3 linked regions of the Homo sapiens genome follow. The protein of the gene in region 2 binds, or shares a complex with, the protein of the main gene of each other region. Each region holds a gene or a part of one and is shown on either strand. Other genes may lie near its edges. The genes, in order: VIP, VIPR1 and ADCYAP1. A codon is read from its position in the direction of its gene.

Region 1 (9,472 bases), on a different chromosome or scaffold from region 2:
GCGTTTTTTGTCTCCAGAACTGTGAGACAATTGATTTCTTTGTTTGAGACACCTGGTCTGCGGTGCCTTCTTATGGTGGCACTAGGAAATAAAAACACTCAAGGATTATGTGTTGAGGTTTCTGTTTTTGTTGTGTTTTGTTGTTTAGCAACACTTGGTCTCTTGCTGATCTCGTCCAGTCTTGTGTTTCTAAATCCCGTCTATATGCGAAATCTCCCACTTGCCCATCTGCAGCTCAGCATCTCCTCTTCATGACATCTCCAACTCCCTACTCAACATCTGCCTTAGTGCATCCAAACTAAGCTCACCTTTCCCTGAACCCTCGTTCCTCCCAGTCTTCTCTGTCTATAGCAATCCCATCCTTCAAGTTGCCTCAGGTGATTTACCTTGGATGTCATTCTTGACTTTCCTCCTTCTTGAACTCCTGGCCTCAAGCAATCCTCCTGCCTCAGCCTCCCAAAGTACTAGGATTACAGGCATGACCCACCATGCCCAGCCTCTCCTATTTCTTGTCTTCAACCCATTCTCAGAAAACCTGACTCTTCTTTCAAGATCTATTCAGATATACTTCTCAATACCTCCAGTGCTTCTGCCTTGGTGGCACCATCATCTGCCACTTGATTTATAGCACTTGCCCCCTAGTTTGTACCCCTGCTTCCACCCTTAGCACTCCTTCACTCTTCTCTCATTAGAGTATCCAGAAAGATCCTGTTAAAGTGCAGTTCAGATAATATCACACCTCTGTCCAAAACTCTGCCATACCTCATCTCACTTCACAAACAATTACAGTGGCCTGTGAGGCCCTACAAGGTCCAGTCCTTAGTAACTTCTTTGACCTCCTCTCCTACTGAGTCCCTGTCCAGCATACTCTGCTCCAGCCACATGGGCTTCCTTGCTCTCCAGATATGTCAGGACTGTTCCCTCATTTGCACTTGCTGTTCCCTCAGCCCAGAACAATCTCTCAGATAGCTACATAGCACATCATAGTCATTCAGTGAATATTTCTTCAATGAATTTCTTGAAGCAATAGGGAATAAATTGAAAAGATTCATATTAATAAAATAAAATTAAAACTCTTTAGTTACACACTCAAATTATGGCTCCATTTCATCTTTACAAGCTTTTTATGTACACTTAACACTTAGAAATTGTCTGTTTTCACTGCAGTGCTTCTCATAAAAATGTCACTTAATAAATATTTAATAATTTGAAGAATCAGATAAGAAAAAGAGATACAAGAAGCTCAATTTACTTCAACTTGTGAAAACTACTTTGCAATTACTGGTACTTCTAGACTAGTTCCTCCTGATGTGGCCATTTGTCCTAATTGTAGAAAATGAAACCAAGCAAAACTTTGCCTTATGGGGATAATGCTTCTTCATTAATGGTTAGGGTCTGACTCTCGCTCTCTTTATTATTTCTTTAAGCTTTTTGGGTGAGAATTTAAGATCCAAGCCTGGAATTATTTTTAATCGCTGCATACATTTATTCTTTCCTTGTTTTATATTAATAGAGTCTTAGTTTTAAGTTGGGTACATGATCACCCAGAAAAAGAAAAGAAAACATACTACATTTCCCAGCCTCTCTTGCAAATGACTGTGGCCATAAGACTATGTACTAGTAAAGGGGATGTTAGTATAAGATATCAGTTCAAAGAGAACTGGCATATAATATTTGCTCCCTTTTTTCTTCCTATAGCCTGCTGCCTGGAATGCATATGTGATGGCTGGAATGCTAGCTCTAATTTTGGATCATGAGGAAAAGTGCCACACCATTGGAGATGAGGGATGAGCTGGAAGGGGTGTAAGTTATTGAGGGTTTTGCTGAGCAGAACCATTATAATAACCCTGACATCTTACTTCTTGACTTACGTGAGAAAGAAATTTCTCTTTTATTTTAAGCCATCATTATTTTAGAACTTGCACACAATCAAATACCACAAAAGCTATCTAGTGCCTAGAACTTTAGAGCTAAAATGAGTTACTGCTGAATCATATAAAATAATCAAACAAAAAAATTATCTGCAATCATAAGCAAGGTCTTTATTTTCTCTCTTTGATTTCTTAAAATTATTTTGGAAAAATAGTTGTGTCTCCAAATGTACTTTCACAGAAGGAAGCTCATATGACCAAAGCAATATTCTGAGTCATTATGGCAAAAATATTTATTATTGAACAACTGAGTGTTTCATTCACTTCACATTTTACACATACTTAACACAAGCAGAAAGGGAAGTTTCAGTGTCAGAAGCAGGGGTCGTTCTCCTTAACTGAAAGACTATCAGGAGAGAGCCTTTGGTGATTAGCAATCCAAATTTGAGATTTTTTAAAACACCATTAAAAATAAAGGTTGCCTATAAAATATGGAAACACATAATATTTTCTGAAAATCTTTTTGGAAGAATGTCTTTTTATCTTCATTGTTACTATCTTAGACATTTTGAGGTTTATTTAACACAGCATTCCATCTGCTTAACATTCAAATTTAGACACACTGATTATCTGTTCTACTCTCCTGAATAGTTAAGTACACTCTATAAATAAACACATCAATTTTGCTCTATTACTACTCTTCCAAAAACGTCTCATATAATTGGAATTAACCTAGCATTTACTTATCATTAAATATATTTTTTTGTTAGAAAGGATATACAGCATATGAAATTGCAGGCTTTTTATGAGTTAAAGACAAAATTTAGAACTCTCAAATACTATTTACAATGTAAACTTCACAGTTATTACATTAGCTAGAATACATCACAACATTCACAACACAATATTTTTATTTGGTTTGGATATTGAAGTTGTTTTCTTGAATTACTTATGTAGAACTCAAAATTTAATTATGTTGCGTATCATTTTCCTTCAAGAATTCTGAAAAAGAAAAAATTGTTGCTTTAGGCATAAAATATATTTTATTTCTAGCATCTTAGTTTCATTCACTGATTTACTTATCTGATAAACACTTATTTCTCTTTGTCCCTTGTTAACAGCCTGTGGCAGGGGATCATGTCCTGGGACATACCAAGAGAGCAGCTTCTAGAGGACTGATTATCAGAGAGGAACTGGAATGTGAAAAGACGTCTAACTAACCATTATTAATGATTCACTTGTAATTTTCACTAATGGATGACCCACATGATTTCCTCTTCAAAGAATTTGTCCAAAGCCACCCATTTAAAAAAGAAAAGAATGGAGGATGGAATCTCATAAGTGATCTTACCATTTACAAAGCACAGTGTGATTAATCAATTCTCCTTTATATTTTAGTGCCTACCGTGTTTCTTAATTTGATGGAGAAGCCTTCTTATAAACACTCTTAGAAAAGCTATATGTAATTAACTTTCTTCTTTGAGCAAAGGGACTTGTTTCTCTGAGATGTCTATAAAAGATAAAGAGTTGATGTGGGCCACACTCCTGCCTCTGCTTTCTCTTAGAGGTCTAAGGGTAATTAGTGGACAAAAGCAGTCAATTAAGCAGGTATCTTCCCAGACACCATGTCCACTCTTGATGACTGTTGAAAACCTTAGATAACCCCATCAGGAACTGAGGTAAGGCCATGAATTGCCTTTAGTTTGAGCATGGGTGAATTTAATCTCCTTAACCTAGTTAGGGATTGGAATCTGGCTCACCTTCAGGTTTTATGAATAAAGTTTTATTGGAACACAGTCACTCCTATTCGTTTTACATCTAACTGTGGCTGCTTTTGTGCTACCATAGCAGAGTTAAGTCACTCTAACAGAAAATAGATGGCTCACAAAGCCAAACATATTTTACTCCATAGCCCTTTAAAATCTGCTAACCTTTGATATGGTGACAGCATGAAATTTCTTTAAGCACTTGCCCAGTATTATAGATTTTTTATGAGCGAATGTGAATATTAATGTAATGTAACTCAGGAAAGAAATATGTCTTGAACCCACATTTATATAAAATCAATTTTGATAGCAAGCTTATTACTTCACAAAGAAAAAAAGTCTATCCATGTTTTTTCTGCTCAAAAAAAATGTTGGCAGAGAATGCTATTAGAGTCATATAGGTAAAACAAACTTACAGGTAAAACAAGCTAAATTTAACTTTTGCTCTATGAAGTTTGCCATGTTTCAAGGAATATAGTTAGACCCAGAATGCCTTGATATTTTCATAGTAATGGGCCATGCTCTAATTTGGTGCTATTTCCCTATACTTAATTGAGGAGCTAACAGTCAATTGTGAGACTAAACCTTCAATTAATAAAAGCAGCATGGGTCGATCCTCAAAAGGAAAGCCCATTTTTCTTGTCAGTGTGAGTCAGCCTCCTCTGTTTTTTTATCTTGATACAAAGGTAGAAATAACCCCAAGTAAGCCAGGAACACTATTCAGATCTCAAAACGTTTGCTTATTGTGAGTGCTCTCTTTTACAAGATCAAAAAAATTTCATGAATCATTCTAAGCTGTTTACTGGGTTGGGGTCCACTGTTGTAGAAGTGTCTGTCTTGGATGAGGTCTCATGATGAGAAACTATTTAACCCTAAGATGTTTCTTACTAAGTGACTCTTAGCTACTTATATAATCAGAGACAGCCATAAGAATACAGAAGGAATGCACGAATATACCCACCACTGGGAAGTTGTCATCAGCTTTGCTCCAAAGGTCTTTTTCATCATTTTTCTAACTCTTCTGGAAAGTCGGGAGATTCTCCCTCACTGCTGCAGACCAGAAAAACATTGTACATATTAAGGCTCTCAGATGAGAAAGGGTCTAAAGAAACTATTATGACATAATGAATGTGCTGTTCTCTGTGCTCTGAAAGTGTATGGGGAGGCTAAACAATTATCTTTGAGGTTTGTTAGTACCTATGAATTATTCATCAATCTTAGAGTTTCTAAAATTATTCTCACAGAATTATCATCTAGTGGGCAAAGAGGTCATCTTGTCTGATCACACCCAAACAGAATTATCCTTAATACTCATCACTTAAACAAAAACAATTGGAATAAAAAGACAGAACACTACACTGTTTATGTATTGTGTCCAATATTTACACACCATAGAGAGATATAGATTTTACAGAATCTAAATATACAAAATACCTAATGGTTTAATTTGATTAAATAACAGTAGTGAATATGCACACGAAGTGAGTTCCATGTGTTACCAAATTGCAATTGACTATGCTTTACATGTTTTAAAAATCATCACTTTTGATGAAACTTGCTCTTAGATTCAGACTAGATGTCTGTATAGTCATCATTTTTAACACTGGCAGCATAGTAAAGTCAACTGGGGAACTCTTAAAAGAAATGTATGTCTAGGGCCACACCACCGAAGACACCGATTTCCTGGCAATTGGTTTGGGAGAAGGCCCAGACATCTGTATTTTTAAAGTTCTGCGGGGTAGTCTAATGTCAGCCAAGGTTGAAAATCACTGCTTCACGTAGTATAGCTAGATAAGTGAGATAGAGAGGTCTCCATGTGCAGCTTCTATTTTGAAAGTCAGTCATGATTCCTCATTTTAGCAAGTTCTCTTTTTCTTTACCTCCTCTTTCCATTCAGAATTGAGTTCAAATATTTCTTTACAGCCATTTGTTTTCTAAGGCGGGTATAGTTGTCAGTGAAGACTGCATCTGAGTGACGTTTGACTGGTACAGGGTCTTCTGAGATGTTACTGCTAAGGAACATGAGGAAAAGGAAATCAAAGAGTTTTCACAAGAAATGATAAATACACACATGTTCCAGGTTTCTTGGAGCCACATAAAAAGCAATTCCCACCCAACTAATTTTCTATCATAAAAAGACTAAAAGAAAAATACAACTAAACCTAAGGATGAAGGAAAGCAAGGAATCATCTGCCATATTTTGGCATGGCCTGGGACTGTTTTATGACACATTCTGTACAGCTGAGCAAATAATTCATCCAAAAATAAAAATTTGGGAATAGCTGAAGTTGTGCTCTGCCATTGGGAGAAATTTTTTTTTTTTTTAAAAAAAACATAATTACTTCTTTAGAAGCTATGCTACCCTGAGCAACGTCATCTAAATATTTGACTGTTGGCCATTTGGAATTCTCCATTTAATTTGAGCAGGAAGTAAAAAGAATATTCTGTTTGACCTTAAAATTTACCTCAGTCTGTACTATCTCTTTTTGATTGTTTTACTGAGTCTTGTTCAATTTGATTGCAGATTGCTAAATGATTGCTACTTGAGAAAAATGTGTGTCTGGAGTCAATGAATATGATATTATGAAAAAGTCTTAGTCCATGGGCTTGATAGATGTTATTGAAGAATACAAGTTATTTCATTTAACTAAATTAAACATTATCAACGAGTTTTCAATTTCAAACAAAGTAAATAACTTGTTAAGAGTGAAAATACAATATTCAGATTGAATAATGATAACATATTTTATAAAAATAATAAATTCTCTTTACCTAACACGTTTTCCCATAAGAGACTCAAGGTACTTTTTGGCAGAAAGTTGACCCAAGAGTTTACTGAAGTCACTGGTGAAAACTCCATCAGCATGCCTGGCATTTCTAAAACAAGGAAGAAAAAAATAGCTATTATTTTGTAAATGGCTTTCTAGAATATTATTATGGCTTATTAAATAACAAAAAAATTATGGGCTTATTATGAAAGCTTCTCATTAAAACTAAAGTTCAAAAGGAGATTTCTTAACACCCTAACAAAAGAGATCTTCTAGTCACTTATATCAAGATATACCCTATATTTCTAGCCCAAGACACTGAAAAATTAAAGAAACAGGCATTTCTAGGAGCACATTTCAATATTCCTCCATGGTTGAATCTTTATAACTATTTCTTTCTAAGAAATATTGGTGTAAAAATATGATCTATTTAAATTAGCTGCTATTTGTACATGGTGCTTTGTGTCTGCCCCACTGAATAAAGACATTCACAATGGGAAAATATTCTGATTTTGGAAAGTTCATAAACCCCAGTACACCTTTTTTTTTCTTTTTCCAAAATATTTGGAAACAAAATCTCTTAAGATAGAGAAGGCATTAAGGCCTATCATCCCACCTTTTCTCTTTCAAATGAAGCACCTTTTATACTTTGTCTGTACCAAGTACTATAGAGCTACTTGGTCTGTACTTGAAATGATGCTCTAGACAAACAGCTCTATGAATGAACAGCTCTATCAGGTATCTTTTCTTTATATAGAGACAAAACTCCTTGGCAACTCTTCCATCATTGGAATGCTAAATGCTGTACTTTTATCAGAATTGGTACAATCTGTGATGTTGGAATTATGTGCAACAGAATGGAAGTGAATGGTGTGTTCATCCTGGCTTGTTACAACCTTTCAGTATGAAAATTATGTACAGCTGTAAGATCTGCAGTAAATCAGGATGAATGAAGCCATGACACATAGAAACCTCTAGTGTTTTGCTATCGGAATAGCTTCATGGTGAGATAAAATAAGCACGTTTATAGTTCTTAAACACATTTTCTAAAATAAAACTCATTGGATAGTTTTATAAAAATAAACTCACCTGGATACATCATAATAGGGTGTGTCATTTTCAGCTAATGCATTTTGCAACATGTCAATGTCTTCTTTTAATGAAACTTGATCAGGTTCATTTGCTCCCTCAAAGGGTATTCTGTCACCCAACCTGATGGGGAAAGTTACACGAGAATAATACATTCTTTTTTCAGAAGACAGTGTGTATGGTTCCGCAACCATTTAAAATAAGATACTTAGACTCTTGGGAAGTATTACCCAGTCATAATATGAGAATAGCATAATTTGACTTAATGGCTCATATAGTTAATGAGAGTATAAATAGGAAATTCCTATTATCCTATAAAGTAGATGCCATATGACTTTTATAAGCTGAATATACAAAACACAAGAGCTACTTAATTCAATCTTATCAGAGCATTAAGCAAACTATACTTCTTTGGTGTAATTTACTATGCCAAGAATATCTTCACTTTGCAAAGTCAAATTTCGTATGTAGAAATATTTTATGCAAAATAGAAACTTGCAAAAAACTAATATTGAATGAGAACTGATAACAATTTATGGATTTGGTGATGTTCAGTATTACCTGTTCCAAACATCTCTGAAGAACAGAGTATTAACTGCTTCTCTCTCTCTCGACCCCCAAGCTTTGCTTCAAATATTTACTTTGGCATTATATATTTCTCTGTATTGACAGAGTTCAAAGAATGTCTCCATAGATGGATAGCTCATCTATGAAGATGAATTTGAATTCAATAAGTTTTATGGGGCCTTCTTTTTTCTAATCTTATGTATTAACACAACTTTAATAAGGGATGTACAATGTTACACTGAAAGACTAAGAATAGTCAAATGCATATATGGAATATGACTATATTTATGGATGCATGCATATTTCAATCACCGGCAACTCTTATAATTTTGTGTGTGCAGATTTTCACTGTTAGGGCAAACATCCAAGGAGCGTGTCAGCTCCTGGACACTTGTGTATCTTTCAGTGATTTGGGAGTTGGGAGTCACTAGCAACTAGTCCTCTGTGGGTCTGAAGCTTAGCAATCAACACAAATGTCCACATTCTTGTGATTGTTCATCTGCTGTGGTAGAACTATTCAGATAGAACCATTTTGTTTAGTTATCAAAGCAACGCAGGAGCTGTATTTAAACAGATTTCACAGAGAACACTAATAGCTAAGAGGTTATTCTCTCTGTTGAGCATAAGTCTACCTTAAGCAAAAAATCAAGAATGACCTAATAAGCAAAGAAGGAAACCAACCCAATTATTATTTTTCCTTTGGAGATACAGTGGTGCCCGTAAACTGAAAGGAAAATTCAAGCTAATATAGTTTTCATTTATTGTTTACTTCTTTAGCATACATTAATAAAGTTTTAAATAAGAGTTGTGTTATACTTTATGGATTTGGAATATATAATATAACATATAGAACAATAAAACTAAGGATTTATGGTCCAAACAAAGTATATCAAAATTTTCCTATTGGGGGAGTGTATCTCAATAGATCAATTACCCCATATTTAATATTGGCAAATTGACTCTGCCTAGATAGATTTCTGTGCAACATGATTTTATACATGTTTCACTAATCAACTACTAGTCTTATGATTATTTACTGATTAATCTTGAAAATAAACTCAAATGTGGTTGGCAACTAAACAGCTTTTTTCCACCAGAAATTGAACTGACTTGAGATAACAATGGATAAAAGCTTATTATTTATCTAAAGATGGTTTTGAATAAAAAGAAAGTGAAAGCCTCCTTTCACCATGTTTGGGAATGTGATCCACTCAGCCCATAAAACTAATAACTGACAGTGTCTCTCATGCCCTGAAAGTGAATTCCAGGACTCAGAATGACCTGATGTTGACAAACACCTCTCACTCAACACATCAAGGAAAAATTTAAATACATAATACATAATTTATACTATTTAGTTGTCCAACAAAATGTATAGGAAATTCCCATTTAGATGAGGAAGGAATGTTCA
Region 2 (10,008 bases):
TGAGGAAGCAGTAGAGGATAGCCACCACAAAACCCTGAGAAGGAAGATGACAGGAGAGGTGAGGTAGACAGACCAGAAGCCCCCAGCCCTGCCCCACCCCTGGCTCCAGCCCCTGTGTTCCCCTGGTTAAGGAAAGAGCTAAGCACAAAGTAGGTGCTTATCTAATACTTATTACAGTAAAAAGGTTGGAATCCAGTGGCAAGGGCCAAGACTCCAGGTTGAATTCCCTTAAAAGCCAGGGAAGAATGCAGCCTTAAGTCAACAGCCCATACCTGGAAAGACCCCACGACGAGCTCAAAGACCATCTTCACTTCAGGCTTAAAATTGTCCGGAAAGAAGGCGAACATGATGTAGTGTACTCCAAACAGGGGGATCAGCAGGAGTGTGGACCTGGCTAGCCTTCTGGAGACAGGGGAGGGACAGGCCATGGGTATGTGTGTCCACACATGTGGATATGATAGGGTGTGGCATGGGGGCAGCTGGAGGCACAGAAGATGGGGACAATGACCAGGAAGTATGAGGATGGACTGTAGGTTCCTCTGAATATTATGCCCTTGTCTGCTCCTGTTCCACAGCTGCAGTGCCTCTGCCCTTCTGCCCCCAGCCCTCCTGGCCTGGAGGGAAGCATGAGAGAGAAAGAAACCCCCTCTATTCTCACCCTTCTGGAGGAGAGAGGGTAAGAGGTAAAGGAGAGGCCAGTGAGAATGATGCTAACAGGGACATGTTAGCTGAAATCCACTATTGGGAGTTCTGTTGCCTGGGCCCCCTGGTCTAGGAGAGGCTTACCTCATCATTGCAGTAGAGGATGCTCTCAGCCATCAAGAGCAGTAGAAAATCTCTTAGGCAACAAGAGATTCTGGTTCCTCCTCTCCTGGTCTCAGTTTTTCCAATTTGTATAATGCAGTAAGTGTATGCTCGACATAGTCAAATTATAGAAACAGAGGCCCACTATGAACTTGGAAGTGTTTTGGGTACTATGAAGTATAGTGCATCCATGAGAGACCATGAGAGAAGACGTACTAGGAAACAAGTCTTTCTAACTGGGTGCTGACCACATATGCCCAGGGCCACTTGGGAGGGTGATGGGGACCCAAGTTCATACCTGATCACCAGGGACAACCCAAAATTAATCAGTATCGCCCTCTATCTGTGTTTTTTCTGCTGTGTCTGCTTCTCCAGAAGTTGCCACCTTCTCTGGGGTTGCATCCCCCTCCTCCTACCTCCCCACACCAGTGCATATACTCCCAGCGTGCTCTGAAGGACCAGCTCCTTCTTCACAGCTTTGTGTGCTCAGTAGGGTCAGCATTCATTCTAAATGCTCACCCGCCTCCCATGGCCCAGAGCTCTTCCTGGTTCAGGCCTCCCAGCCACCTGACCTCATAGCTGATCCAGGCAGTGTGAACCCATTGCTCCCTGGCTAGGAGAGGTGGGGTGTGGATAGGGAGGGTCTCTGACTCTGTCTCTCCTGCCTTAGCAGTCAGTCCAAGGAAGTCTAGCCCAAGGCCTGAGGTCCCACAGCAAGCTGGGGGCAGAGGAGCTGGCCTTGCCCCTCCCACTCCTTCCTGGACCTGGTTCTCAGCCATGCCAAGATCCTGAGCAATGCCCACCCCTCTTCGGCTGCAAAACTATCCCACACACCGGAGGCTAACAGATGGAGGCTTTCTTTAAATCAAAGGCTTATGGGGAGGTGTAGAGTGGGAGCTGACAGCTTCTCCTTGAGGAGCTTCATCTCCAACTGCCCCCACCCCTTTTGCCTGCTGACAACTGTTTCCTTTCTGTCTCACCACACAGACCTGGCCCTGACCATGGCCAGCTCTGTTTGCCTCAGATTCAGGCCCTTTTGAACCATTGTAAGTTGGGGGAAATAAGGTCCCATCGGCAAAGGAGAGGATAAGGGTGCACAGGCCCGATGTGCTGCCCCTCAGCAGACTGCAGATGCCCCCCCCGTCCCCCCCAGCCTTTCCTTCTCAGACAGGAAGGGAAGCTCCGCCTACACACCTGGCAGGAGAGAATGCAGTCACACCAGGAATGTGAGTCTTAGTCTCATCAGGGAGAATCACAGGATTCCAGAATAGAATCCTAAATCCAGCAGTCTGTGACATTCTAGCCAGGAATCTTAGAACCACAGCACAGACTCTCCAAAGAGAAGCCAGGCCAAGAAGAATCCCAGGACTGGAAGGCCTTGTGGGACGTCCCAGGTTTGTCTTGTGTCAATAGCACTGATACTCAATCTCCTACTCCCATCTGTGAGCATGCAGACCCTACTTGCCTTCCCACAGCCTCCCTTTTCATATTTTTCATGTTTCTTTAGCTCTGTCTTCAAGCCTTGTTGCTCCCGCAAAAAAACCTGCCTCTTCCTCCAGTCCTCCCAAGCAGGGGGAACAGTCCTGACACCTTTCCAAGCCCTGGTCCATGGACATTGTGCCCCCTTCTCCCTGCCCATGGTGACCTGCTCCAAAACCCTCAAGGAGAAGGGAGTGTATGTCATTTCCTCCCTGTAAAGTAAAGATAATTTTGCAGGGGACTGTGTGGATGAAATGACATGATGCATGGAAATCCCTTAGCGTGTGCCTGGCATGTAAACTGCAGGTGTCATCATTATTACTGAGGAATACTGAGTCCCGAACATGGCTGTCTCATTGGTGGACTGGGGTCTCCCCCAGGGCATTCATCTACTATGTGTTTATTGCACCCTTTTTCCATGTGAGGCACATGCCAGGGACTGGGCACATGGTATGAACAAGACACAGGTCATCGGTGTCCTCTTGAGCTCCCTGGCTTGGCAGCAGATGCATACCTGGGAAGGATGCTAGGTGAGTGTGGGCAGGAGAAGCATGCAGGGCTCTGAGTGCAGCCTGGTGAGGGTGGGGCTGGAGCAGGGGATGGTGGTGGGCTGAGCCAGGCCATGGTGGAGGTGGGAAAGAACAATGTGGCTCTTTGGTGACTCTGGATGTTTGGGGTGGGAGGACTTCAAGGAGATGTGGGATGATTTGAGGACTGGGGATGGAGGTACTGGGGGCTGAGGCACTAGGCCCACACTCACGAGTATGGACTGCTGTCACTCTTCCTGATATCTGGGGGCCGCAGTTTCTGAAGCAGGATTCGGATGATGCAAATAAACAGGATGAAGTTTACCTAGTGGGTGGGGACCCGAGTTCGGGCAGTCAGAGCGGGAAGGCTGAGGTGTTCAGGCCCCTTGACTGCTGGCCTGTCTTCTTTCCCAGGGTCCTGCTGCCCCTCTCTCTATCTTACCTCTCCTCTGGCATTTCCCCTTTGGGCAGGTCATCCGGGAACTCTACCTCCTTCAAATCCCTAAGGACTGTGCTCCCAATCCGCTTACGCTCAAGGAAGAACTGGTAGGACAGGGGTGGGGATGATCCTGCATTGGGCATTAGGAAGCTACGTTTCAGTTCTGACCTAGATACTAATTTCCCATGTGACCTTGGGCTAAGTTGCCTGCCCTTTGGGCCTGTTTCCCCATCTCTAGGTGGTGGGAGGGTATCTTACCAAGATGGAGGTGAGGATGGGGCCCTTTATGATCCACCACAGTGAGGAGTTGATGGTGTCCCAGCACCTGAGCAGACCGTGGGGAGGAATGAGAGGGATTGTCCTCAGCCAGAGAGAGACTCAGCAGCACCTCCCCCAGTTGTCCCCAGCTCTGCTCCTGAGCACTTTAGCAACCCCGGGCCCAGAGTCTGTTGCTCCCCAGGTCCTCCTCCAGCCTCCCCTCTGGCCCGAGAGCTGTGGTTTTTGTCCACTCACCAAGGCCAGATGGCATTATCATCCCACCCAGGGGGCCTGCCCAAGTGATGGCGGCCGGGGGAGTGTGTGGGGCAGCAGCTCACCCATAATCCTCAAAATGGATCCTGGCGATGGTCCACACCATGGTGAATGTGCTGGGTACCCCTGTCAGGCCCAGGGAGAGTGAAAGAGCAGAGAGGGCACAGGAAGCAGGGGTAGAGGGCATGAGGGAGAGATTTTGGAGAAAAGCAGGGAGAGGGAGGGAGAGAGAAAAGGGTGGGTTGTCAGTCTGCTGTCTTTGGTTGCATAGGTTGTTCACCACGGAGGGATGCTCCACTGAGGGGGTGAAGCTGTATGCCTGAAGGGCTGTGTCTACCTAGACGGACATTCTCTTTCTAATTGTGACAGAGGCCCTTTATAGATTAGCAGTGGCCCTGTGTATTTCGGGAACTAAAGGGAAATGGAAAGATGTTCACAAAATCTGTCCCACAGGTCAGCCCTAGGTGCAGCTGCAACCTGAGGGACTTGTCCTGGGATCAGACATTTTGAGGACTTTCTTGACCCTTGGCTGATATCCTTGCAGGCAGGACCTGCAGCTAAGCAAGACGTAGGACTGCAAGCTGGGTTGGCACCCTCCCCCTAGGGAGTTCTCCAGGCCTTGCCCCCTCTGTCCCCAGCCTGGAAGCCCTCCCTGGTACCATACCCCAGCCGATGAGTATGTACCCCCAGAAGTACTTCCGCTCAGAGAAGAAGGAGACGGCAAGCAGGGTGTACAGGTAGAGGCCCTCCACCAGCAGCCAGAAGAAGTTAGCCATGACACAATATTGGAAAAAGACCATGGCTGCCTTACAGCCCACCTGCAGGGGGAGGAGAAAAGACGGGGTTCACTGGGGCTGTCAAGGGTCCTTGACTGCCCACACTCGTGTCTGGGGGGACAAACACAGTTGCAGTGCAGCCAACTTAATCTCTTTGTTGTTTTGCATTATCCCCTTAAAAATGTACTCATTGGTTTTCCCATTTTCCCTAATTTTAGATCCTCTGATACTTCGGGATAAACTGGTGATTTTAATTATCCATCCATCAATTCATCTATTCACCTTCCCATCTATATATCTACCCATCTGCCCATTCAATCATCTACCCACCTATCCATGTATCCATTTATTTACCCACTCACCCACTAGACATTCACTATCAACTCACTCATTTATCCATTTTTTATCCATGTGTCCATCCATCATCTATCATCTTCCCATCTATCAATCCATCCACCCACACACCTATCTCTCCATTCTTCTACCAACCCACTCAGTCATCTACCCATCCATTCATCTCTGCACCCACCCATCAATCCACTTGTGCATCCACCCACATATCTACCTACCTGCCCCTCTGCCTATCATCTGTCCAATCTTCCTTACTTAACCCATTTATCCTGCTGCCTACTTAGCCATCCACCAACCTGCCCATCCACACTCCCACCCCACCCACTCATTCATCTAATGCCAATTTGTATTGAAGGTAGCTGGAAGGTATGAGGGAGAATTCTTGCTTGAGTTTCAAGAGTCTGCTCAATGTGGGGGAGTGGAGGGCTGTGGACTGTGGAGTGGGGCCCAGATGGAAGTGTGGAGGGAGACTGGGACTGAGAAGAGGGTGGAAGAGGGGGAAGTAGAAATGAAGAAGAAGAGAAGAGGGGAGGGGTGGCCATTCCTCCTGGGGTTCAGAGGACCGAGTGGAAGAATGGGTTTCTTAGGCAGACGAGGACCATGAAGGAGTTAGGGAGACCCATGAGTAGAGCAATCACAGGGCTCTGGGTGGCCCACTTGGCATGACTGGAAGGTATTCTGGGCCTTCTGTCCCCTCCCAGAAAGTCCCCCATTTCAGATCAAGCCTAGATGTCTGTCAGCCAGGGCTTAAAGCCACCCTCCACCAGGAAACTGTCTGGCTTCCACTTCCCCCTGTACCCAAAACATTGGTTCCCACCCTTCCTTCCTGTACCCTTGGTTTGCGACATCCTCAGAGAGAAGCCTCCCCCTGCCCCCACCACTCCCTTTGGTTGGAAAGTCCTTCCTCAGGTCTCGCTTCAGTCCCTCCAGTTACAGGAGTTCTTGCCTCCCCATCTTCCTCCCATTTGCTTTTGGAGAATAACTCTTTTTTTTTTTTTTTTTTTTGAGATGGAGTCTTGCTCTGTCACCTAGGCTGGAGTGCAATGGCATGATCTCGGCTCATTGCAACCTCTGCCTCCTTGGTTCAAACGATTATTCTGCCTCAGCCTTCTGAGTAGCTGGGATTACAGGTGCTGACCACCACACTCAGCTAATTTTTTTTATTTTTGTATTTTTAGTAGAGACTGGGTTTCACCATGTTGGTCAGGCTGGTCTTGAACTCCTGACCTCATGATCCGCCCAACTCAGCCTCCAGAAGTGCTGGGATTACAGGCGTGAGCCATAATCCGCGTCTGGCCATAACTCAGCTCTTTACCAGGACAGTTATCTGTGCTTCTTCCTAGTCTTAGAAAAGCTTCGCAGTAATGAATTGGGAAGCCAGTCTCCATAATTATCCGTAACATGTGCACAGGAGGCAGCAGGTTCCTCCACAGGTCCTGTGGCTCACAATGCTCATGTCTGACTTGGCCTCACAGCTCCTGGGACAGAACCTCTGAGAAGCTCTGGGAATGGCCAAAGTGGGTCCCCTAGGTTTTCTCTCCCCCTTGTTGAAATGCCTGAGATTCCAGTATGATCATTTCACTCTTTGGGGAGAAGGTACTGCTGACCCCTGATATAATGCACTGCCTCTGGGGTCATGCATGAAGCAATGAGTTACTGACCACAAGGAATGAGTGGGGGCTGGGGCTGATCTCAAGCTCTCTGTCAAAGCTTGGGGCACTCAGAGAGGGTCCCTAAGAATCCCTTGGAGATGGCCCCCTTAGTGACTGGCAATGAATTCCTTAGATGATCCCTTTACCTCTCTTCCCTAGGAAGGCCCAGAACCAGCCTGCTGTCAGGATCAGAACAAAAGAGGAGGACTGCATATGTATGGACCCACTCCAGATGGCACGGGGACGGGGGGAGTAGGAAAAGTGGCATGGTGAGCAGAGCCCTGGCTATGCAGGTGGCAGATGGCAGAGTTGGAAGGAATCTTGGAATTCCTTGCACAGATGGGGAAACTGAGGCTGTAAGTTCCCCAAGGCCACATAGGAAGTTAGCAACAGGTGGGACAGGTGCTCTGGGCTGTGGCCATGAAGTGTCCCATTTCCCATCTGCTTTTCTCACTGGCGGCGGCAGGTCTGTGAGCACCCAGATGGGTGAGCAACATCTCCTGTTGCCGGAGGGGAGTGTGATTTGAGTACTGCCAGGTGGGGTTGGGTGGGGGTTAGGCTATCCTTGGATTGAGGGGTGGGGTGGGAGGGAAGAGGGAGGAGGGAGAGGGAGAAGCAGGGGGAGAAGAGGAGATTACAGTGGTTAAAGATAACGGCGAGACTGAGGGAGGTGGGCCAGGGCCAGGATCCTCACCGAGCCCTCGGAGCACTGGTCCGACTCCCCGCTGTCGAAGAGGGCCAAGTCTTTGATGAAGACAGCGGCAGCCCTCAGGATGAAGGATATGAAGAGGTGCATGTGGATGTAGTTCCGCGTGCAGTGGAGCTTCCTGTGTGGGGTGGGCAGATCTGGGAGGCCAAAGGGGCCTTGGATCCCCACCCCAGCCAATGCTGTCCTATGTGCTGAGCAAGGGTGGGGCAGGGGAGCATGTGTCCTCCAGAGGGCAGGCCCCGCCTCAAAGGGGATCCCATCCTGAAATACGAGCCCCACCCCCAGGTACCCCATCCACCTGTGCAACTGGGCTCCCAAGGGCCTCAACCTCGTGTGTGGCCCCAGAAGCCTCATTCCTGTGTGCAGGCCCCACTCTCTGGTGCCCTGTCCCCAGGTGCAGGGCCATCCTAGGGGAGACTAGGCTGCAACACATGGAAGAGCTCAGCCACCTGCCTTCTCCAGGGGAAGCTGGCCTGGCAGGAGCTGGGGAGTATGTGCTGCTGGGGGGCAACAGTGGAGGGGTCGGGGCACGCCTGGGCCACGCTGGGCTCCACTGTGGGAGGGACACTTGCCAGGTTTGCTTTGAGGCCTGTGACTTGGGCTGGGCCTCACCTGAACAGGCTCAGGATAGCTGTGGCGACCAGAAGGGTGGCGAGGGACAGGCCGTAGCCAATGGTGTAGCCGGTCTTCACAGAACCGTAGAACATGGTCTGCTGCTGTTGGAGGGACAGGGAGAGGCTCTTGGGTGGTGGGGTGGGAGGCTCATCTAGGGGGTATTGGCAGGGGTGGGGTGCCCTACACACTCTGCCTGCCCAACCCTGCCTCAGCAAATGAGGAGGCTGAGGTCTGGGGCTCCCAAGAGCAGCTGAGCCCCTGACCCCTAACGCCCTGGTTTCTACAGACAGGGCAGGACTGTGTCTTAGGGTGGGGTGGGGGTTGAATGTACTTCCTGTCTTTGCTTCTTTACGAGGGACAAGTTGGTGAGGGAGAGAATGAAGACCTTGCACGTCCCTTTTGTTAATTTCATGTCTCCAGCCATGTGCCCGGCTTCCCTTCTGTGCCAGCTCTGAGCTGGGCACCCTAGGGGTGGGGTCTGCTTGCCCTTCAGACACCCCTCGAGGCCCTGTCTCTGTATAGGGAGGAGAGGTATGCGAGGTTGCGGGATGTCGAAGAAGACACTGGCACTAGTATGTCCCATTTTGGGCCCTTGGGAGTTGGGGTCGGTGGGATGAGGGCAGTCTGGCCTTTCCGGTGGAGGAGGGCAAAGCTAGGCCCCGAGGGTGTCTCGCTTGGTCCCCTCTCCTGATGCCCTCCCCATGGACACAGGTGCAGTGCAGCACGACAGCCACTAGGCAAGCCACTCCTTCCTGTCAGCCTCCCACGCTTGCCTGAGGAGAGGCAAGTGGTTAAGGGGGAATGAGGGCCTATAGCTCCAGTGGGCTTCAAAGGCCTCTGAAGAAATTGCTGTCCTCGGGGGTGGGTGGAGTGAAAGCCCGGTCTGAGAAGGGCGCCTGAGGGTGGGGCAGATGCCATCGCAGACAGACACACACACATGCATTTGCACCCCAAAGCAGTGAGGGGCTCCTAGCTGAGGACTCCAGCCTCCCCATCAATGTCCTTACCAGGCTCCCCAGTCTTTACAGAGACCATGTTTTAACTGCTCCGGGGAAGATATCTGTCCTGGGACTGAGAATGACAGGCTCTGTCCCTGTTCCTGACTGGCTATTTGGTAGCCAAGTCTGGTTCCTTCCAGGACCTGCAGCAACTCGGTTTCCCCTCTGGATGGGATGGGGTGCTGGTGTCTGCCTGCCCTGCCAACTCCCGGGCTGAAGTGAGGTTCCCATGAGGCAGTAGGGTGGCCCAGCCTGGGGGAGCTGCTTCAGCTTTTGCTGCTCTGGGGGCCCCTCCTGTGGGAAAGCCTCCTCCCATACCCTGTCAGGGGGAGCCAAGGGTTGGGACCCCAGAAAGGCAGGCCTGGAGGAGGCTAGAGGAGGGCAGACTCCAGGAGTCCTGTTCCCACACAGACAGCAACCACACCCCTCGGTGGGAGAGATCAAAGTCTCCTAGGTGGGCCCCGGCGCTCTGCAGGTGAGGTGGGGGTGCCCTGAGACCCACCTCATCCAAACTCGCTGCCTTGTCATCCAAACCACAGGCAATGGGGTACGGGCCAGGCTCCAGGTGCGTCCAGCCTTCGTCGGTGCAGCTGCGGCTTACATTGCGGCCTGGGTGGAGGGCAGGGGCAAGGACAAAGGCTGAGGCCGGGAGCATGGGGACCTGGCTGTCTCTGCTTGGAACAAGGCAGAGAATTCAGCCCTACTCCCACCAACCCTGGTGCTGTCAGGTTCCAGCTGCCCTGACCCAGTTACCCAGGGCACCGTGGGGGCACCTGGGGCAGGGAGAAGCCTCTTCAGGGCTCCCGCACCGATGATAGAATCAGAGCAGACATTCTTGGGCTCAGCCCTTTTGTTATGGTCTGAACCTGACCCCAAGTACAACATACACTCTTATCCTTGTCACAGACCCTGCCTGGATCCTTGTCACAGAATGATTCCTGACCCTTGCCGTGAGCAGAATGCTGACCCTTGTCACAAGGCCACGGCTGGGGGAAGGGGCCCAGGCCTGCCCGGTCCTCCTCAGTCAGCCTGCCTGGGCCTGTGGGGCTGGGTTTCTTCTCACACCTGGAAGGGCTTAGATGTGCTGCTGGAGGGGGAGCAGGAGTGTGGGGGTGAGGAGGGGTGGG
Region 3 (10,701 bases), on a different chromosome or scaffold from region 2:
AAGAGGGTGAGGCAGGAGTCTCACTTAAGCCCAAGAGTTTGAGGTTGCTGTGAGCTATGAATGCACTACTGCACTCCAGCCTGGGTGACCGAGGAAGACTCAGTAAAAACAAAACTAAACAAACAAACAAACAAAAACTGCAAAGCCGTGATTACCATACAGTGCTAGTAATAATGATAATAAAAACAAAGGCTCCAAAATTATTACATGTAAACCTATATTCACAGGTAGATAATGCCAAGCCTGAGCCCAAAGGGCAGAGGGATGCTAGGGGCTCACAGAGGAAGACCTTCTTTTGATTTTACACACAAAAACCTTGTTTTATTTTGCATATAGATTCCCCTTCCAACATTTTCTGAAGTGGTCTCAAAAGCTTATTTAGGATATTGGTTTTCCTGGATCCTGTCCAAGCTTTTCCTTCTGCATTTAAGCCTTATGTCAGCAGAGGATTTAGACTAAGTAGAGAGAAGACTTTCTTCTCCTTGGCTTTTTAGAGGAGGTGCTCTGGAATTTGGAAGATGCTACACAGTGAAGTCTGGGATATACATTTTTGGTACCCAGTAAACTCATGTTCAGAGAATAAGGCCTTAGTAGAGCCATATATGTGAGATATTTGGAATCATCCAAACCTGTAGCAAAGGTTAGATCCTGGTTTTTGTTTCTCAGATGTCTGCTTTATATCTCAAAACAACAAGCAAAATTTCTTGGCTCTGTGAATATGCAATTCTGTTCTTAGATTAGAGAGAAGCTTTACTCATGTGGTTTGGAAGGCTTCCTTTCCTAGTTGTTTTCAGTGTGTGAGAAGCACTACATTTTGAAGGTCAGAGAAGTCATGACACATTATAGGTAAGCTCATCAGCTTCTTACTTCACAGTGAGTTCTGAAAGGCATGATGCATGCAGTCCAGTAAGTGATGGTCATGATGTTCTGGTTCAGAACATTTGGGTTTCCCTACAGGTGTAATCGGTATGAAGTGAGTCATTAGTCATTGCATTTTCTGGAAAAGTCGGTAGAGAAAAGTTTAAGTGAAATGTAATACAGTGTTATAATTCACTTTTGTCACTCACAGGAGAGGATGATGTTTTGCATCAGGCTTGTTTACTGAAAAAGCTTATTATAGCCTGGTTCTTATGCTAAGTACTGGCTAAAAAAGAATAGAATGTGCCAGGCACGGTGGCTCACGCCTGTAATCCCATTACTTTGAAAGGCTGAGGCAGGTGGATCACAAGGTCAGGAGTTCGAGACCAGCCTGGCGAACACGGTGAAACTCTGTCTGTACTAAAAATACAAAAATTAGCAGGGTGTGGTGGTGGGTGCCTGTAGTCCCAGCTGCTTGGGAGGCTGAGACAGGAGAATCACTTGAACCTGGGAGGCGGAGGTGGCAGTGAGCCGAGATTGTGCCACTGCACTCCAGCCTGGGGGACAGAGCGAGACTTCATCTCAAAAAAAAAAAAAAAAAAGAATGCACAACTTTTCCAATCTTGATTTAGATTATTTATACTAGGAATGTGTGAGGATGCCTTGAACAAACATGTCCTTTTATATGGTTAAGAAAATCAAATGTTGTAGGATATAGAGATAGTGGTAGTAAAAGGTAATGGTGTAGAGATATGTACCTAAGGAAAGAGAATGTCATGGAGAAACCCTGGGTACTATGGGTGACTGAGCCAAAAAGAAAGTAGTGGAAATCTTATCTAAGTGACCAGAAGCCGCACTTCACTGGGCTGCTTAAAGGCAAAAATACTTTTAGCTCACCACTGATTTGCAATATGGGGATGGAGGGGAGCAGTGTTTAAAAGATGCTGAAGATTCCCATGCAAGAGAGGGAAAGCCAATTTCCCAAGTGGTGATGGTCCAAAGGCAGGAACCTGGCACAGACACAACAGTACAAACACTATAGTATTTGCTAATGTTGTGAAGCCATCTGCAATTCAAACTCCCAGTATATATACTAGACATATTCCTCCTGTTTGAATACAAAAACCCACTTCCTCAAAGGCTAGAGTTCTTTAAATTGAATGTTAATTCAAGGTTCAAGGATTGACCCTTCAACAAAGGCGGATGTGTTAGCCACCAGGAAAAACAATTCGGGGAAGGGTTAGTTTGACTTTTAGCTATTATTTATCATTTCTTACCCAAACTTGTTTTCACATCTGAAGGACCAACAGGATAAAAGTTGATACATTAGGGACTTGAAGTTCAGAGTATTATTAAATCATTTCCAACAAATATATATAAACAGCGTCTTCCGGGCAGGTCAGGGCTTAGCTCAAGTCACTTTCAGTTGCTGTGCCTCAGGGAGGATGCTGGTTAGACCTCCCACTGAAAGATTTCCATTGTTCTTCTAACTTTTCTAGCCAAACATGATTCCAGTTAATGTAACAATCTCACAGCCTGGAAAGAAACTGCCAGCCTGGGAAATCTACTTTTCTGGCCTGGGAAGTATTCTGGTGAGCACTGAGGGAAGGGAGTAGGGGTGTTGGAAAGAAGACTTGAAATTCCTTTGTGTTATCTGTAAATAGAACGTTCTAACTCTTTGGTCTCTTCTTCCTCCTCTCCCCCAACCCCCTCTTTCATCATTTTCAATTATATATAGGAGGTTGGAAAGTTTCTCTTGAGCTCTTAACCCCAGTCACCTAAATACCCTTTGTGAGGGAAACTGGGTAAGAACAATTAAAGTGGAAGGCTCTCCTACCCTGGTCTTGCTCTTCCCCAATTCTCCTCTAGCTCCTCCTCCCTTTATCTCTCTCTCTTCTCATAAAAGTGCTTTAGTTGAGGCTTCCTAGGATTCACCCTCCAGCTCCTATCTGCACTTGAAGCCAGGCTGGGGTCTGCACTTGCAATTAGTATGTCTGTTGGACTGGGCCACGGTATCCCACCTGGCCACTGCCGCATGCCTCCTCAGTGCATGCCGGGGCTCCTGGTCTCTCTAGCCTGGGGCTTTGGGCTGACAAGTTCCCTCTTCCTTGCAGCTCCCTCAAAGTCCCAGACACAAAGGCCTCCAGGATGCTCTGTTAATGCTTGACTGGAGCCTTCCAAGATTAGAATCAAAGGGGCATTTGGGGGTAGTTTTGGTCTTTGAGACTTCAGTCATCCCATATTCCCTCTACCCAATAGAAAGCAGAAGGGGCCTATACTCTCATCTAGCAGCTTCTAGTTCCTCCTATCTATTGGCCTTTTCCCTTGGCCCAGGGCCAAGGCCAGATTTTCATGAATAGGAAAGCTCTCCTGCAGAGAGATGTCAAACATGCCCAGCTAGACAATGGCCATGAGCAACAAAAGATCTGTGGGTGATCCTGTAGGAGTTTGATTCCCCCAGGCTGCTGTGGGCAGGGCTGTGTGGGTCTTTAGATTGTGTTGAGCAATTGGTGGGTCTAGGAAGCTTGATTTTCTGGAGTTCAGTGACCAAGAATCTCAAGTTCTCTGTTTAGTCTTTCACTCTCGTGAATGGGTTCAGGTCTGAAGGCCTGTAATTTTTGGGTGCTGAGCCCCGAGTTCTGAGCTGAGAGTATCTAAGCTGAGAAGAGCACGGGGTCGCAGCCTTGGTAAGTCAGAGGCACAGTTCAGCCTCTGTTGGCCCTTGGAGCCAGCAGTTAGTCGTCCTCCCCAGATAGTTAATCGTGTTTGTGGTTTTCCCCCTTTAATGGGCCGTGAAGTCAGCAAACTCCCCACATGGTGGCTCCCTTTACTAAAGTTGAGTAGTGAATTGTACAAGGAGTCTTGGAAATTTTCAAATATTTCTCCAGATTGAACTCAACTCAGAATTCGTGTGGGAGGAAAGAGTAAGGATTTTAATGGGGTTCACCTTTGACGTGAAGCAAGGCGGAAGACAGGAAAGCCACAGTGGGGAATAGCTTTGGGCGCTTTAGTAAGAAAGACATCTCTGCTTGATTATCTGGTAGTGTTCACCGCAGGCTCTTTGTGTGCGAGCTTGCTGCAGAGGCAGAGCTGAACATGGAAAACACGCATGTAAACAGTCCAACATAAATCAGTGAGCATATGTATCAGAGAAAAAGAGACATATTCCCATGTAGATGTGGTTTGAAGCTTTATTGAAGGCAGACAATCTGAAGCACGGCCAGGAATAAACTAAGAGGAAGCAGACAGTTTTCGGTCATTCATGGCCAGGAATAAACAAAACTTAGTTTTTTTTTTTAAGAAGGAGGAAGTATTAAATCTCAAATAAGAGCAGGAACAGCATTTAGAAGGAGAAATATAATATCTTGGAAAAAGCATGCAGAACTAATATAGCTTATTTAAATGTGAGATCCAAATCGTAGTAACAGGAAACCCTCCCACTAAACTGGAATTTCCCCTAATTTTTGTGTAAGATCCAAATAATTAAAATGCACTCTAATGGTTATTGATGGCTCTATTTTCTTTCTTTCTTTCTTCTTCTTCTTTTTTTTTTTTTTAAAGAAATAGACCTGAGTTCTCTTACTGGAGTAGAAATATATGAACCTTCTTCAATTACCCAGGAAATTGGAAGCCTCTGGGTGGATATGGTCTTCCCTTATTGCTTTCCTCTTCCCACATCATTTTCAGTTAAAAAAATTAACTGTTTCCAGCAGAGGGATTCCTGTTAGAAACCTTCATCAGGTGAACTTGTACTGGGAACCCTCATGCTTTCCCAGTCTGTCTGTGTCTCCCAAACAGAGCTGAAGTTGTAAACAAAGTGGAAAAACATATTTCTCGCCCCCAAATTCTTAAAATTTCACTTCTTGTGGAAAACACAATTTCACAACATCAATTTTTAAAATCTGTAAGAGCCACAGAAGGTGTGAAAGTAGCCAAACAGCCGGTCTAGAAATCCAAAAGCCAGGACTAACGGGGGACAGAATGCTTTTTCCTCAAATCCAGGCAGGGATGGGGAGCATTCTCAGCATTAGGGCATTTATGGACGCTACAAGAGGGAAAGGATGTATCTGAACGGTGGGGGTGATTTAGGCGATGAATCGCCACGTTAATAGCACTACTGCCAAATCTTCAAATTTAGAGGCTCTGGTGAAAAATTAAACCGGTGGCAATTTTCAACGTTTGTAGCATCTGTTACCCTACACTTCAGCACCCGGAGTCTGGACAGCTCCGCAGGCCGCGCTCCGGAGGCAGCATGAGCTCTCATCAATCTACTCATAGCCCTACTGTCAACGGCAGCCAGACTCAGGAGAGATTTACTGAAAATCCTCCAAGACTTCCCTTTAAAAACAAAACGACTTCCACATTTAATGGTCTATCTGAAAGAACATACGCAAGAAATTAGGAGATCTAAATTAAATTTATTAATAGGAGAGCTTGATGATGCTTAATTCCAGAGACCAGAGCTCTGATTGGTGAGGCTTGATGAAAAAGTAAAGAGAAATCGTAATTATATAGTTAAAAACATAACTTTTGTCATCCTCAAAATTCTAAAAATTCTTTACCTGTCCTTGAGAAACGGGTGAAATTGAAAACCATCAAAACAATTGGACTTCTTAAAAATTGGATTGTATGAGTGAAAGGTGTTTATGAGAAGTCGATGACTCCGGATCTTATCATCCAAGAGGACAGCACAGAATAGTTAATATGTTCCTTGAGGGACTAGGATGCTGACGTCTTTTTCTGATACCCGATCATTACGTGACTGAGAAAAAAAAAAAGGAAGTCATTTCATGAATAAAAATCGGAGCGCAACAGTGCAACAAAATATTCTGTACTTAAAGGCAACAGGCAGGCAGATGTTGACAAAGAGGGCTCTCCAAAAACCATGTTCGGATAGATTTTTGCGAACTGCACAGATAAATAGGAGCAGAAGGCCGGTCACCTCTGTAACCAGCGGTAGCAGCAGCAGAAGCCGCAGCTTCAGAGGCAGCCGGAGAGACCTCGGAGCAGAGAAGGCGCCGCCGACCCTCGCGGCTGCCTGGCCCGCGGCTCCTACAAAGGCGGGCTAGCCGCCCGCCCTCTCCCTTGCCTTCCTCCCCTTCTTTTCTGACTTTCCCTCTTTCCCTTAATCGCCTGCTTCTTCCTCCGGGTGGACTTACGGCCACCTTGCTCCTCCGCGCTTCACCTCATCGCCCCCTCTTTCTTTCTTCTGCCTCTCTCTCTGCGCCCCCTTCTCTCCGTGTCACGCTCCCTCCTGGTTCTGCGCGTCTACAAACTTTTGAGCAGAACACGAGCCTCGGCAAACGAGTCCCGCAGCTCCTCCTGCTGCTCCCGCTGGTTCCTGCGGCTTCTGCTCAGACACCAACGCCAGACGGCGATGCCTCTCGGGTGGTGACTCCAGCGCAGGAACTTGAAGAAGCGCTTTGCCCGCCGTCCTACCTGGCAGCTCTCCTGGCAGCGGGAGGAGTTGAAGGGTAAGGGAGGGAAAATCTTACCAAAGCGACCGGCTCACTCGACTGCTGATTCTTTCGCTTGGCATCGCGTCAGGGGAGTTAGCTTTCCTTCAGCCGGGTCTGGCTAGTTATTGGGCGCCGGGTAGATGCATATATATATATTTTTTTCTAACTATAGCAAGCAAGAAGTGGCAGGGCGCGCACCGGCTGTCGCCAAGTGCTGTTCAACTCAGGGAGCCGGGGCTTCGCTCCGTCCCTCCCCCGGCTTCCAGAGCTTTTTGGGGTTGGAGGGTGGGAGGCCAGGGGCGTTCTCACAGCTGTGTGTCCTCTTTCCCATCCTGCGCAGAATGACCATGTGTAGCGGAGCGAGGCTGGCCCTGCTGGTCTATGGGATAATCATGCACAGCAGCGTCTACAGCTCACCTGCCGCCGCCGGACTCCGGTTCCCCGGGATCAGGTAGGTGCTGGCTGCCTGGCCCAAGCAGGAGCTGGGGCTTCCCAGGCACAGACGCTTCCTCACGGTCTCCTTCCTGCAGTCCTTTGGGTCCAGACTACTAGCATCGCCCTCTGCGCCCCCGGTGCGCCTCCGCCAGCCTCGGCTGGACAGCGGGTCCCCATTCTAGCCGAGGGTCTGGCAGGCTCCGCGACTGCTCGGACGCCTCCCCCAGCCCTAGGCAGCTCAGGGTCCCGGGTAGAGCCAGTGAGCTTCTGGCCGCTGGAGAACCCCCCCTCCCCCAACCCGGCCCACAGGATGGGGGCAGGGCACGGCCCCTAGCTTGGTTTCTTTTACCTATTCTTGGGACGAGTTAGGAGAACTTCAGCTCTGGAGCCTGGCCGGGGGTTGAGCGTGAAGCTCCCTCGGACTTTGCTTTGTTACTGCTTGTTCTGGACTATCCGGGTGGGGTCTCTCTCTCTCCTCCACCCTTTCTTTTCATTTCATTCCAATTCTTTCCCCTGAAGAGCTTTCTTTCAAGTGATCCGTGTTCCAACTGCATTTTGAATCCCAGGCTGTCTTGGGGGGCGTGCGGTGGGGAGGGTGTTGGCCCGGTGTGATTGAGGAAAAGCGACTTAAGAGAGGGAAGAACAAGGACGAGACTGCGAAGGAGGGGGAAAAACAGGCGCAAAGGAGGAGGAAGGGAAAGCCAGCAGGCAGGCAGGACCGGGAGAGCAGCCCTGCCTGGCCCGGGATGGAGGAACCTTGGCTTTTTTCTTAACCCCGGGTTTCTAACCGGCAGGCGCGGCCCAGGTTCCCGGAGGCAGCCCCAGAGTCGCGGACCGATGTGCCAGGCTGTGGATGAGCCCTGGGTAGGGGAGGGTTCGTACCAGCGGCGCCTGGGGCAGCGAGGAGCGCGCGTTCTGCCTGCGAAGCTGCCTTCTCCGAGCCCCGCCCAGGAACATTAGCTCTGGGGGGCCGCTGATCATTGATTTGGACGGAGAGATGGGTTCTGGGTTCTGTATTAGGATTCCAGCATCTGGGCTCGAGGCAGGGCAATATCCAGAAAGACCCCAGGGTTCGGGGTACCCGGGCCAGGGCTGAGGCGCATCGCCGAGCAAAGGCTGGGTGCGAGGCGTGCGGAATGATGCGCTTGCCTTGCCCGGGCCTCTCCAAGGATGGAGAAAAGGCGAGTGAAGCAGCGAAGTACGACTCCAACCCCGCCCAGAGAGTGCTACTAGCGCTGGCTGCACGCCAAGTCTCTCCAGGGGTCCAAAGCGAGAGGGATTTGTTTTAACCCATCTCTACCCGTCCTGTGTCAAGAACGGAGGCTGTAGAGGGCGACTGCGAAGTCGCCAGGCACTCGCTGGATCTCGGTCCCCCTCCTCGTGCTCTGGGGTTGAGATGGGGCACCGCCATCGATAACAGATCAGCGCGAACTATTCGTTTAGTGGCCTTAAAACACCCTGGTTTCACCCTCAGCTATTTTCAAGTTCCCGTGTGCCTGGCACTTTCTCCGTGCGAGAAGCACCGGAGGGTGCGGACGCGCCACAGTCTGAGCCGCCGCCGAACTGGCTAAGTTTAGGGGCATTTATTATTCATGTTCCTGCCAGATCCTCGCCTGCCCAAAATAGAAACCGAGGTTCTCCGTGACCTACATCTGCTCGGAGAAGGGCTCCCCTGGGCTCGGAGGCTGGGGTGGGGGTGGCTGAGGAGTTGGCCCCCGCACGCCCCACGCATCCTCTCCTTTGCTTTCTGGGCCTCCCCATTCGGGTCTTCGCGTGGGTCAGCGCCCGGTCTCCCAGGGCCTTTCTCGTCCCCGCCCGTTGCTGCTTTGGGGAGGCTCGGGAGCCAGGCGGGGAGGGGGGCGGTCCTTTTCCGTAGACAGGTGTGCGCGATCGGCGGAGACGCCTCGGTTTCCCAGCGCTTGTTGAGGCCGTGGCCCGCAGGACGACCCTTTACCCGCGAAGGGGGGGTGGGCGGGCCGCCCGGCGGGGTAGGAGTGGTTGGGTGTCGTTGCCTCCTCCTTACCTCTGCTCCCACCCCCAGTCCTGGGAGAAGAGACAATTCTCAGCGGAGGACTTTTATCACCTGTGAAAATCCGCGCGAGCCCCTTACTTTGGATCCTCGCCGAGCTGGGGAGGAACTTGCACTGACCACACCTTCTGTCCCCGGCCACCCCGCAGGCCAGAGGAAGAGGCGTACGGCGAGGACGGAAACCCGCTGCCAGACTTCGATGGCTCGGAGCCGCCGGGCGCAGGGAGCCCCGCCTCCGCGCCGCGCGCCGCCGCCGCCTGGTACCGCCCGGCCGGGAGAAGGTGAGATTCGCGCGGCCTCGCGCACACCCGCGGCTGGGAGCTCGGGACTGCGGTGACGGGAGGGGCAGTGTGGTGACCCACCCAGGATTTTTTTTTTTTTCCCGTGAAAGTCCTCAAGCCTGTCCTCTCCCTGGCCCGATCCTATTGCAGCGACAGAAAATCAGCAGCGGGCGGGTCTGTGTGGACCTGAGGGCCGCGTGGGGACCGAGGGGGGCTGTGGCCCAAAGAGTGGCAGTGAGTGGCGTCAAGGAACCCACACTCCGCATCTGCCACTCCTAGAGCCGGGACTAGCTCCCGATCCTAGCAGTTGCTCTCGAGATCATCCCGGGAGTTATTGGCGAGTTCTGGGCCTCTGGAGGTTTCCCTGTCAGCCTCCCCGGCCGCCGAGGGGGCGCGCGCCCAACAAGGGGGTCTCTAGCGGCCACCTGGGGACAGAAACAGTGACCCTGGGCGCGCACTTTGCCTCCCCGTTAGAGATGTCGCCCACGGGATCCTTAACGAGGCCTACCGCAAAGTGCTGGACCAGCTGTCCGCCGGGAAGCACCTGCAGTCGCTCGTGGCCCGGGGCGTGGGGTAAGAGTTTGTGGAAGGATTAACCTGCGCGCGCCGGGGTGGGTGCCTGTGCGGGGCGCGCGGGGCGGGCGGCGGTGGGTGCCCGTGGGGGCCAGGGTGAGTCTGCGCCCCTGGGTCTGGGGTGGGCATCCGCCACGGGTCGCAGTTGGAGATTTTGAAGTGGCACTTTAAATTTGCCCAGAGAGCTCTGGAAGAGGCAAAAAGGGAACGCGAGCCAGGGAGTTTGATCCGTTTTGAATGAAAAGAAAGAGAAACCAAACCAAACCTCTCAGTCATCCAAAACCTTCAGGCTTCCAGGGAGGTTTTGCTATAATTTTCTCTAAGCATGACTGTTTCTGGGGGAGGGGAAAGGGGTGGTTGTATTTACTGAAAATTCAAATCGAAATAATAAATGGCCAAATGTGGACACTTATGGACCCAAACAGTTTTGCTCACGCCAGAGAAACTGAGAGCACAGGGCTTGTGTGAAGCCTATCTCGGCAGAAGGCAACATTCTAATAAAGCCCGTGGGAAAACAGATTACATTTTCGCCATGAATAAGTCATGCAGTGAAAAATATTGCCTACAGCCTGTCGACTTATATTATTATCACGTTTTTCAACTCGGCGTGAGGAGGGAGAGGAGTGTTCATATTTGACTAGGAATTGCAGGATCGATGCAAACTCCAGGGCAGCAGCCAGACTGGCATATGTAGGGCTCTCCGGTTACTTTCTCTGTATGTCGCGGGTGAGAGGAACAGCGAGGACAATTTAGCGCAAACACACGAAGGGTCGGATCTCAAGGGGGCAGCGCTGGGAGAAAGGTTAGGCTTGAAGCGCGCGTCGCCTGCCCGGATCTTATCCCGGGCCCCCTCCGCAGGGTTTGGTGCCAGGAGATCCTGCGTGGGGAGGGGGGCATCGAGGGGCTGCCGTCTCGGCCCTCCCCACGGCTGCTTCCAGGCAGAGGCGGGCGACGCGGTGGGCAGTGCGAGCCCCGGGCCCTCCCCGAAGGCTCCCGCGTGGGGTGGGGCCCGCCTGCTCCCCGCGGCGATTGAACCTGTGTCTCCCGCCCCGCCACCCTCTTCCCG

What was found.
Region 1: the proteins of VIPR1 (region 2) and VIP are in contact, whole or in part, in a cryo-EM structure (PDB 8E3Z), measured with the Homo sapiens proteins. Residues at the interface, in NP_004615.2 of Homo sapiens: Glu36, Cys37, Val40, Ile43, Asn69, Phe90, Leu92, Phe93, Tyr118, Ile120, Asp125, Asp126, Asp132, Gln135 (codon at 7,981), Thr136 (codon at 7,978), Tyr139 (codon at 7,969), Val142 (codon at 7,960), Lys143 (codon at 7,957), Tyr146 (codon at 7,948), Tyr150 (codon at 7,936), Arg188 (codon at 7,328), Lys195 (codon at 7,307), Phe200 (codon at 7,292), Ser202 (codon at 7,286), Glu204 (codon at 7,280), Ser205 (codon at 7,277), Gln207 (codon at 7,271), Cys208 (codon at 7,268), Met219 (codon at 4,580), Phe222 (codon at 4,571); in NP_003372.1 of Homo sapiens: His125 (codon at 5,612), Ser126 (codon at 5,609), Asp127 (codon at 5,606), Ala128 (codon at 5,603), Val129 (codon at 5,600), Phe130 (codon at 5,597), Thr131 (codon at 5,594), Asp132 (codon at 5,591), Asn133 (codon at 5,588), Tyr134 (codon at 5,585), Thr135 (codon at 5,582), Arg136 (codon at 5,579), Leu137 (codon at 5,576), Arg138 (codon at 5,573), Lys139 (codon at 5,570), Gln140 (codon at 5,567), Met141 (codon at 5,564), Ala142 (codon at 5,561), Val143 (codon at 5,558), Lys144 (codon at 5,555), Lys145 (codon at 5,552), Tyr146 (codon at 5,549), Leu147 (codon at 5,546), Asn148 (codon at 5,543), Ile150 (codon at 5,537), Leu151 (codon at 5,534), Asn152 (codon at 5,531).
Region 3: the proteins of VIPR1 (region 2) and ADCYAP1 are in contact, whole or in part, in a cryo-EM structure (PDB 8E3Y), measured with the Homo sapiens proteins. Residues at the interface, in NP_004615.2 of Homo sapiens: Glu36, Val40, Ile43, Asn69, Leu70, Ile89, Phe90, Phe93, Ile120, Gly123, Leu124, Lys127, Asp132, Gln135 (codon at 7,981), Thr136 (codon at 7,978), Tyr139 (codon at 7,969), Val142 (codon at 7,960), Lys143 (codon at 7,957), Tyr146 (codon at 7,948), Tyr150 (codon at 7,936), Arg188 (codon at 7,328), Val192 (codon at 7,316), Lys195 (codon at 7,307), Phe200 (codon at 7,292), Glu204 (codon at 7,280), Ser205 (codon at 7,277), Cys208 (codon at 7,268), Phe222 (codon at 4,571), Gln223 (codon at 4,568), Val226 (codon at 4,559); in NP_001093203.1 of Homo sapiens: His132, Ser133, Asp134, Gly135, Ile136, Phe137, Thr138, Asp139, Ser140, Tyr141, Ser142, Arg143, Tyr144, Arg145, Lys146, Gln147, Met148, Ala149, Val150, Lys151, Tyr153, Leu154, Ala155, Val157, Leu158.

The regions. Positions count from the first base shown.
Region 1 is NC_000006.12:152,752,311-152,761,782, reverse strand, and holds the end of VIP (VIP peptides isoform 1 preproprotein), read right to left. Parts: intron 7,618-9,472; coding exon 7,495-7,617; intron 6,908-7,494; exon of another isoform or gene 6,515-6,907; coding exon 6,410-6,514; exon of another isoform or gene 5,650-6,409; coding exon 5,518-5,649; exon of another isoform or gene 4,688-5,517; coding exon 4,642-4,687; 3' UTR 4,599-4,641; exon of another isoform or gene 2,993-4,598; intron 2,874-2,992; 3' UTR 2,023-2,873; downstream 1-2,022. UniProt on the Homo sapiens protein: PHM-27 and PHV-42 are two bioactive forms from proteolysis of the same precursor protein, that cause vasodilation. PHM-27 is a potent agonist of the calcitonin receptor CALCR, with similar efficacy as calcitonin.
Region 2 is NC_000003.12:42,525,369-42,535,376, reverse strand, and holds part of VIPR1 (vasoactive intestinal polypeptide receptor 1 isoform 1 precursor), read right to left. Parts: intron 9,491-10,008; coding exon 9,384-9,490; intron 7,985-9,383; coding exon 7,881-7,984; intron 7,406-7,880; exon of another isoform or gene 7,387-7,405; coding exon 7,254-7,386; intron 4,599-7,253; coding exon 4,445-4,598; exon of another isoform or gene 4,419-4,444; intron 3,907-4,418; coding exon 3,846-3,906; intron 3,575-3,845; coding exon 3,508-3,574; intron 3,357-3,507; exon of another isoform or gene 3,282-3,356; intron 3,136-3,281; coding exon 3,044-3,135; intron 2,814-3,043; exon of another isoform or gene 2,798-2,813; coding exon of another isoform or gene 2,752-2,797; exon of another isoform or gene 2,635-2,751; intron 403-2,634; coding exon 273-402; intron 35-272; coding exon 1-34. UniProt on the Homo sapiens protein: G protein-coupled receptor activated by the neuropeptides vasoactive intestinal peptide (VIP) and pituitary adenylate cyclase-activating polypeptide (ADCYAP1/PACAP).
Region 3 is NC_000018.10:898,729-909,429, forward strand, and holds the start of ADCYAP1 (pituitary adenylate cyclase-activating polypeptide preproprotein), read left to right. Parts: upstream 1-6,332; intron 6,333-6,353; exon of another isoform or gene 6,354-6,657; coding exon of another isoform or gene 6,658-6,658; coding exon 6,659-6,768; exon of another isoform or gene 6,769-7,924; intron 7,925-8,930; coding exon 8,931-9,062; intron 9,063-9,536; coding exon 9,537-9,635; intron 9,636-9,816; coding exon of another isoform or gene 9,817-9,862; exon of another isoform or gene 9,863-10,701. UniProt on the Homo sapiens protein: PACAP is a neuropeptide involved in diverse array of physiological processes through activating the PACAP subfamily of class B1 G protein-coupled receptors: VIP receptor 1 (VIPR1), VIP receptor 2 (VIPR2), and PACAP type I receptor (ADCYAP1R1).